2 linked regions of the Homo sapiens genome follow. The protein of the gene in region 2 purifies or fractionates together with the protein of the main gene of each other region. This does not show direct contact. Each region holds a gene or a part of one and is shown on either strand. Other genes may lie near its edges.

The links.
Region 1: the proteins of MARF1 (region 2) and KIAA1671 purify together in Homo sapiens (affinity purification with mass spectrometry, with the first as the bait; one large-scale study listed by BioGRID). This does not show direct contact.

The regions. Positions count from the first base shown.
Region 1 is NC_000022.11:24,951,555-24,955,515, reverse strand, and holds the start of KIAA1671 (uncharacterized protein KIAA1671), read right to left. Parts: upstream 2,801-3,961; 5' UTR 2,744-2,800; intron 1-2,743.
Region 2 is NC_000016.10:15,593,887-15,598,154, forward strand, and holds the end of MARF1 (meiosis regulator and mRNA stability factor 1), read right to left. Parts: intron 3,052-4,268; coding exon 2,807-3,051; 3' UTR 501-2,806; downstream 1-500.

The DNA.
Region 1 (3,961 bases), on a different chromosome or scaffold from region 2:
GCACTCACCTACCTCCAGGCTTCTGCACAAGCTATTCCATTTCTGCAGCCCATAACACCAACCTCTTCCCACTGGCTGTCGAGAAAACTAAACTCTCTGACCCGCATCCCTCCTTATAGCCAAAGGCATCAGCCCCTCCTCCTATGATCATAGTTCTCCCCTTCCAGACAAATGCATATGTTCACAAAGACTTTCAGGGCATAAAGTATCCCCTTAAGGATGTGGCTGCTAGCCTCATCTTTGACACAGTGTCTTGAAATATTTGTTGAAGGAACAAATGATAAATAAATGAATGAATGCACATATAAAATATCCCTGTGAGGCTCTGTTTCTGAGTTGGTCAGAGATGTAGCCTGGTGAGGAGAAATGCTCAGAGCCAGACAACTGGCTCCTTCATTCTCCTGCCAAGGTCAGCCTTCAATAAAAAACAGCCCCGGCCAGGCGCAGTGGCTCATGCCTGTAATCCTAGCACTTTGGGAGGCGGAGGCAGGAGGATCACCTAAGGTTAGGAGTTTGGGATCAGCCTGGCCAACATGGTGAAACCCTATCTCTACTAAAAATACAAAAATTAGCCGGGCAGAGTGGCGGGCATCTGTAATCCCAGCCACTCTGGAGGCTGAGGCCGGAGAATTGCTTGAACCCGGGAGGCAGAGGTCGCAGTGAGCCGAGATCGCGCCATTGCACTCTAGCCTGGGCTGCAGAGCGAGACTCCATCTCAAAAAACAAAATAAAACAAAACAAAACAAAACAAACGAAAAAAAGCAGCCCCTAGGACCTCCAGTGGGGGTAGGGGCAGCTTCCAGCCTCTGAACCTAGGGTGAGAACTGTATCCCCAACATCAAGAATCAGTACTAGACTGCAGGGCAAGCCGACTGCTCCATAGCTGGAAAGTAACTCCAAGAGGACAAATCCTGAGTTGCCCTAGGCCACACCATTTCTACAGTGCTCCTGACATAGGTGCTCAATACACGCTGGTTGATGGAGCCAGCCAGTTCATGTGCCCAGCTGAAATGTATGTCCAGACACTGCATTGAAACTCTGCACTTCTCTTGGGTAATTGCACCCTTGTCAAGCATGCAAATCCTTTAAAAAGGATCCCCCTGCCAGAACCACCAAGATCTGGGCTTGTGTCTGTACAAATTCCTCGGGAACTGTCCCTGGCTGCAACAGGAAGGAAGGAGGCGCCAGAGTCTGGGGGTGCACACGTTTGTCCAGGAACCTTGATGGATTAGCAGAGGGAAAGCCAGACCAAGGGAGAAGCTTTGTCCAAATGTCTTGGTTACTCATTAGCCAAACCTCAGAGCTTCTCTCTGCAAGGGGGGATCAGAGGGGCAATTAACCCATTTGGAAGAAAGGTTAAGCTAAATAGCTCTCTAATCCTGCGGTTTCAAAAGATAGCAAGTAGGGTTTCTGGAATCTTTAGATACTGTAAGGCAAGCACAGGGGATGGGGCACGGGAAAGGAGAGGCCATAGACTGAGGGAGGCACTGATACTTATAGAGCCCCTACCTGTTTCATACCCTTCATTCCGATCCATCCTAGGCCAAGCCCATTTTGCCCAGAGGGTCCCCATCTGGATTCAGATAGGTTAAGTGTTTTGCCCAAGGTCACAAAAAAGGTGCAAAGAAAGTGTTTTTCTTTGTGCAACAGGTACAGTCCTTTCCCTTCCAAAAGATAATGGCTGCTCCTGGCTAGAGAAAGTTCAGTCCCGGCAGGCAGGAAGCCCTAGCCACCTAGGCGTCGCGCGGTGGAGGTCACACGCCTGCTCCGGGACTGGACAAACAGCAGGGTTTTAAGGCGCGGCGTCCCCACTCCCAGGCGAGTTTGTGCCAGCAGGGTGTGAAAAGGTCAGGCTCGGGTGGGGGTCAACGAGCCGCTTCCCATCCCGAGGGCCCCACCCGTGAGCCCGGGTGGGCCGCGCCGCCATCGGGGCGGGGACCACGCGGGCCTGCCTGGTAACAGGGGGACTGAGGCTTAATCCCATCAGGGCGCCTCCGCCCTGGGAAGACGAGCGGAGGGGGGGCGCAGGCCAGGCCGAGAGGACGTGTCCGGAGCCTCCGCGTCCGAGGGGCCCCGCGCGCCGCCCCTCTCACGCCCCCCGAACCACCGCGCTGTCCTCCGGGCTCCCCTCGACCAGGGTTCCGTCTCGCTCGCCGCCCTTGCTTCCCACTTCCACCTCCGGGGCCTCCAACCCGCACAAATGTCCAGACCCTAGCAGCTCCAGGCTGAGTAACCCAGATCTCCAGCGATCCCTCAGCTCCTAGCCACGGGATCTCTCTGAATCCATTCCCAAGGCTCAGGCTGGCATGGGAGGAGATTGATCCTCTCGCTCCCAGTCTCGAATCACCCTTCGCCGTCACCCCTGACTGGGGATCCAGTGGGACCCCAGGCCTCCAGCGCCCGATCCCCTCCAGGGATCGACTCCCAAGTCGCCAACCAGGTGGCACGTGATCCATTGGTTGCCCTGTGCGGGATCTTCCCGCGGGATCCACTCTCAAGTCTCGGGAGACGGATTCCCCGGCTCCCAAACCGGGATCCTCCCTCCCTGCAGACCCGGAGTCTGGGGAAATCCTCCGGCTCCCCGCCTCTTCCCCGGCCAACTTTGCCAACTTTTCTCCCGGGGCCTCGGCCGGGCAGAAACTTGGCGGCCCTCGCCAGCCGCCGTCACCCCCAGCTACCTCGTCGGCCGGGGACAGGAGGCGGCCAGCCGGCCCCCACTGCCCGCAGCCGCTGCGCAACCTACCGTGGAGCCACCGCCAGCCCGCGCCGCGCCGCCACCTGCCCGCAGCCCGCGGCACCTGCCCTGGGAGCCCGCAGCCCCGCGCAGCCTAGCCTGCTGGGGGCGGGGCCTCGAGCGGGGACGCGCCCCCGTCACCATGGGAACTGCCGCCGGCCGCGCCTGCGCGGAGGGGAGCAGAGCAGGCAGGACCCGAGTCCGCAGTGGCGCCTGGGCCTGGGACCTCTCCGGCGGGTCAGAGGTCACGACTCGCTTGGACACCCCTGCCGGAAGCGCTCCCGCCCCTCGAGGCCCGACCCCGCTCTGTCCAATTGGGAACTTTGCTCCGGGTACCCTCCCGCGTTCCCTGGATGTTCCCCAGTCACCAGCCAGGATCCCCCGCCACCGGCACCGACCCGCTGCCCAGCCGGCGACCCCGAGAGCCTAATGCAACCCAGGATTTCAGGAGGCGCTCCATAAATGTGGGCCCACTGACTTGCCTGGGCTGCTGGTGCCGGCCCGGGGGCGGGCAAGGTCTGTGCGCGGTGCTGGCGCCTCCTCGCGCCAAGCAAGGGCACTGCACCTGAGAGTTCGCTGGAGCGCCTACTGTGTGCGCATCCTCCTGCCATTATGTTGTGGGTGTGAGTTGTGGGGTAATGGGTACAGGAACTTGTGGACAAGTTGAGAGAATCGTAGGAAGTCGCCTCTGAAAGAGAAAATACCTGTTCTGTTATCCGTTACTCATTTCATTCAGCAGATCTTTATTAAGCACCTATTGCATGCTGGGTGCTGGAGAACCCAGTGGTGGGCAGCTGGCAAAATCCAGGCTGTTGTGCAGCTTACAGATATTCAAACAAATAATTTCACGAGTATATCAAATTGAATCTGTGACATGTGCTCCTATGGGAAATGTACAGAGCATGAATAACTGGAGGACCTAAAATCAATGTGCCTTTATTATAAGCAAGATAGACCTCAATAAAAAAAGAGAAAGAAAAGGACATCACAGGCTGCGCACGGTGGCTTGTAATCCCAGCATTTTGGGAGGCCGAGGCGGGTGGATCACCTGAGGTCATGAGTTTGAGACCAGCCTGGCCAACGTGGTGAAACCTCGTCACTACTAAAAATTACAAAAATTAGCTGGGCGTGGTGGCGGATGCCTGTGATCCCAGCTACTCGGGAGGCTAAGGCAGGAGAATGGCTTGAACCCGGGAGGTGGAGATTGCAGTGAGCCAAGAGCGCGCC
Region 2 (4,268 bases):
GAGGGTGCTGGTGGCAGGGGTGACGGGGTAATGGCGGTCTCAGGGGATGGGAGGGCTTCACAACTGTATCTGTGGAATAACTCTTTTCCAAATTGGCTTATTCAAAAAGCATGCTTAGCAGTGACCAAAAACGAGACAGCGGGCACGCTGGATTTCTTTCACAAGAAGAGAGAGCCTAGGAATTAATAGAGTTTTCTAACTGGAAGGTTTTTGTGGTTACTGTATTTTCCCACATGTAATTATAAGCTGGAACAAAGGCTGGAAAACTTGGAGGATCCTGACGACGAAGGGCCCACCATCCAGCCACCTGCTTCGGCGTGTGCTGAGTTTAAAAGGCCTCTAAGATGTAGACGGATTTACTCTCCACCTCACAATTCTATTTCCAGAAGGGGAGAGAAGTTGAGGAGACCCAAAATGAAAGATGGCAGAACTGTATTGGTTTGTAATTCCTCCCCACAGACAGACAGACAGACAAAACCACTCACTTGGGAAACTCAAAATAGATGCTCGCTTGTAAAGTTTATTGACAACTGTTTGGTCCCAACACACAAAACAGCACTTGAACCACAACAAAAGTGTTCAAACAAAGTAGACAACTAAGAAAAACATCTCTTTCCCCCAAACCCAATCCAAAACAAACAGTGCAAGATGGGAAAGGGGGTTTTGGTGATAACTTTTGTCATTTTTTTAAACAGATAAATTTAATCCGGTATATCTTTCCACCCAGAAATAAAGAATTACATTGTCTTAATGCTCAAACATCATTTTACCACATCATTTAATTAAGCCTCTGGATAAAAAAATAGATAGCAATTGGACTGGCCATTGTGGAGTACATTATGAACACAATGTGCTTCCGAAGTCTTCTCTCTCATTTTCAGACAGCAATTGTTAAGAGTCACACACACGTCCCAGACCTAAGCAGCAACTCCAGTGAATGGTACTCAGACACACTCACGGGACAGCACAGAACTTGATTCTTCTTTGTCTGTTGCCCAAAGAACCTGTTCTTTGAGTCTGTTCCAGGTGACTTGTAATGATACCTCTTACGGTTTTAAAGTCCACCACTCTTTACATGCTAGCAGAACTGAAGTCCAAGCGTGCAAACTCAGCCTTATGAAATCTTAGAATAAGGCAACTGATGTTCTCAACACCAATTATTATTACTTTGTTTAAAAGCTCCTTTAAAAAAAATTGCACATTTGCATTTCACTTCCTGTAACACTATGTCTGTAGAGGAAATGCCTTCAGGAGGATTCGGAGAGTGCCATAATACTTACAGGGTTTTTTCCATGGTGTTCTGTCTTGACTGGGGCCATGTGTTGAGAACTGGGAGTCACTGGCTTCATTTAAAAGATTTGGGGAACAAAAAATCTGACTTGTAAAAATCTCTCTATAGCCCTTATTTTGTGGCATTTTATCAAAATGCTATGAAATCAGAGTCCATTTTCTGGCTTTCTAGAAGTTACCAAATATAAACATTTCCCCAAAAGAAACCATCTAACTAGTGGAAGACCTTACGCCAACAGGTTCTTTCTGCTCTATGAATGAATCCGCCTTTTTTGCCGGACAAATACAATCCATTGTAAATGTCAGGTTTCTCTAGAGGGGGGTGAGAGGCCACCCGTCAGCGGACACCTCAGGCACCTAGAGAGGAAGGCCATTCCACACCAGACGCCACAAGAAACCCAGAGATGCTTCCAACAGCGAGAAGTAACGAGAGTAAAATCAGACACGATTAAAAGATGCTGAGCTGACATACACACACATAAAGCTTCCCAGCTACCGATACCAGCTTTAAAATTACAATAACAAGGTTAAGTGGATCAACCTTGGCCTTCCTATGTGTAGGTAGAATTCCTGTCTCTTCCCAGTGGAAATCGTATTGATCCCGCTGCTGCTGAAGCACCTCCCCACTCAGCTCTGATTTGTAATTTATGCACTTGATGCATATTTTAGAAAATCAGGCTCTTTCCAATGCTGCCTCTCGACACACAATAATGTGTGTTGTAATCCAAATGCTGACTTTAAATCCATGACATCGAGACCATCTCCTTTTCCTTAACCTAACCCATATCAAACTGGAACACAGAAGGGAAGCTTCAAACATCCTCAACTTTCTAGAAAGCTCCTAAATGGAACCCCAAAGTAGAAACGTTTAAAAAAATTTGTGATGAAGCCACTTTTGTCAACTACAGACATAGTTTAAATAAAAAACAAGGCACACTTACAAGTCACATGGAAGCCAGGAACCTTCACATTCCAACCTGAAAATACACTCCGAACCCCTCGCCTACCCTTCTCCTTTGGTGTGTGAACACACAGGCTAGCGGGACAGGCTTTGCTTCAAAGACATGCCACGCACTGGGTTAATACTGTCGGAAACACCAGTAAGCAAAGGCTGAGAGACTCTATTATGCTACATGTAGGATGACACCACCGACGTGGCTCAATGGAAGCAAAACCGCTTCCTGCTAGTTGAGTTTTTAGTGCTTTCTTCTTTTGGAACACCATTGTATTTCATAATAGTTACTAAAAATTTGGTAAAATATATTAAGGATTCTTTAACAAATGCCACAAGTTCTTCAAATAATTGAAAAAAGAAAGAAAAAGGAAGAAGAAAAGAAAGACTTCAGCTCAAAGCTGTGTTCAATGGAAAAGAAAAACATGATAGAACACAGGTAAGATGAAGTCAATGGCTTCGGGGGGTTTTCATGACACAGAAAAGGATGTATTTTTGAAACCCACTTTTGTGTGCAGAATCAGACAGTGTTTTCCCATCCTAATTCTATATTCCAAATGGGAGTTAAAGCTTGGTTATAGGTGCTAAGGAAAAGTTGGCTGCCAATTTGACTCTATTTTTGGGTTGCTTTTTGGCCGGGCTTTCCACGGGGTCCTTGCTGAGCAGTGACTCGGAGGTTTCCGAGGAGGGGCAGGGAGGCACGGGGACAGCTGCTGAGATGCAGGACGAGCTGGAGTCAGAGGTCAGAGTTTTGCTCTTTCCTGGTATTGGAATCTCCATTTTTTCTTCTTGGTTTAAAATCATAATTTCTGTAAACACAGAAAAGCAAACAGATTCAGATCCAGGAACTGTAAGAAGTGTGGGTTTTCTCTTCCTTGCTCATATTTTCTCAAAAGATAATAATAGTAATAAAAAGCTTCTAAATGCTACATCTATGCCACAGTTTACATATGAGTTGTGTGGCCAGTGAACTTGGCACAGAAATCAAGTATCTATAAACTGCATCCCACCTCTCCCACTGGATTACAAAGTTGGAAAGATCTCTATTTTGAGCTATAAATGAATGAGCAAAGGTTAAAACTTTTTGTTTTTCCATTTTGGATTCTCTGCCCATTCATTCTGCCTGCCAGATATTAAGGACCCATAAAGCTATCCACGACTTAGAGACTTCCTGAGGCGGGAGGCCGTGGGTGGTAGGGGGTGGGGTCGGAGCATCTGGGTGTCAGGGAGCTCCTGGCCTGCTCCATTTAGAGAGGACCTATGCTCCCCATGGGTCTATTACCGGGGATAAGGAAGGACTACGCAGAGTGAGAATTACCCTCAGAACCCAGGAAGTTGAGCACAGCCAGCTTTCCCACAGTGCTTCTGGACTGCCATTTCTGTGGCTGAGCCACATGTAATTCACCTGCTCTACACACAGGGCCACGCTGCTTGAAAGAGATGCATCATTATGCCTTAGACTCCCACTGCATAGGGCACAGGGCTCCTGCTCCCAAAGGCCCATGGAAGGTGAGAGTGGCAGAGGGGACAGCAGAGCCAGCTCCCTGCCTAGGCTGACCCTCAAGAGAAGAGCGGCTGACAGAACTGCCCACAGTGTTTTAATTATTTTCCTCTCTTGTCCGGTGCATGCAGTTGAACTTGCCCAGACTGAAGGCACAAAGGCCACAACCCCACAAACGAGCTAACATCAATGTGCCACCAACCCTAGGGGGGCACTGCACAGGAGCAGGGCATGGTCTAGGTCTGACTGCACAGGCTGGTTCTATCCGCAGGCAGTTACTTCCCCATCTCCTATTTTCCAAGTCAACAGCCTCAGTTCTTTTCCTGGGCAACAGTGCTGAACGCTGCCAAGAACAACCAAGATGGTAAAAGCCAAGCCAGGAGTCCACGGGTTGTTCCTGGTGACCTGGAAAGCAGCACCAGCAGTGGGGAGGAGTTGGGTTCCAACAGATGAAGAGCAGGGAGGGATCTGTACAGGGCAGATGGGCCATCCTCTCCAGAGGCCAGGAGACACCGCAGGACAAGA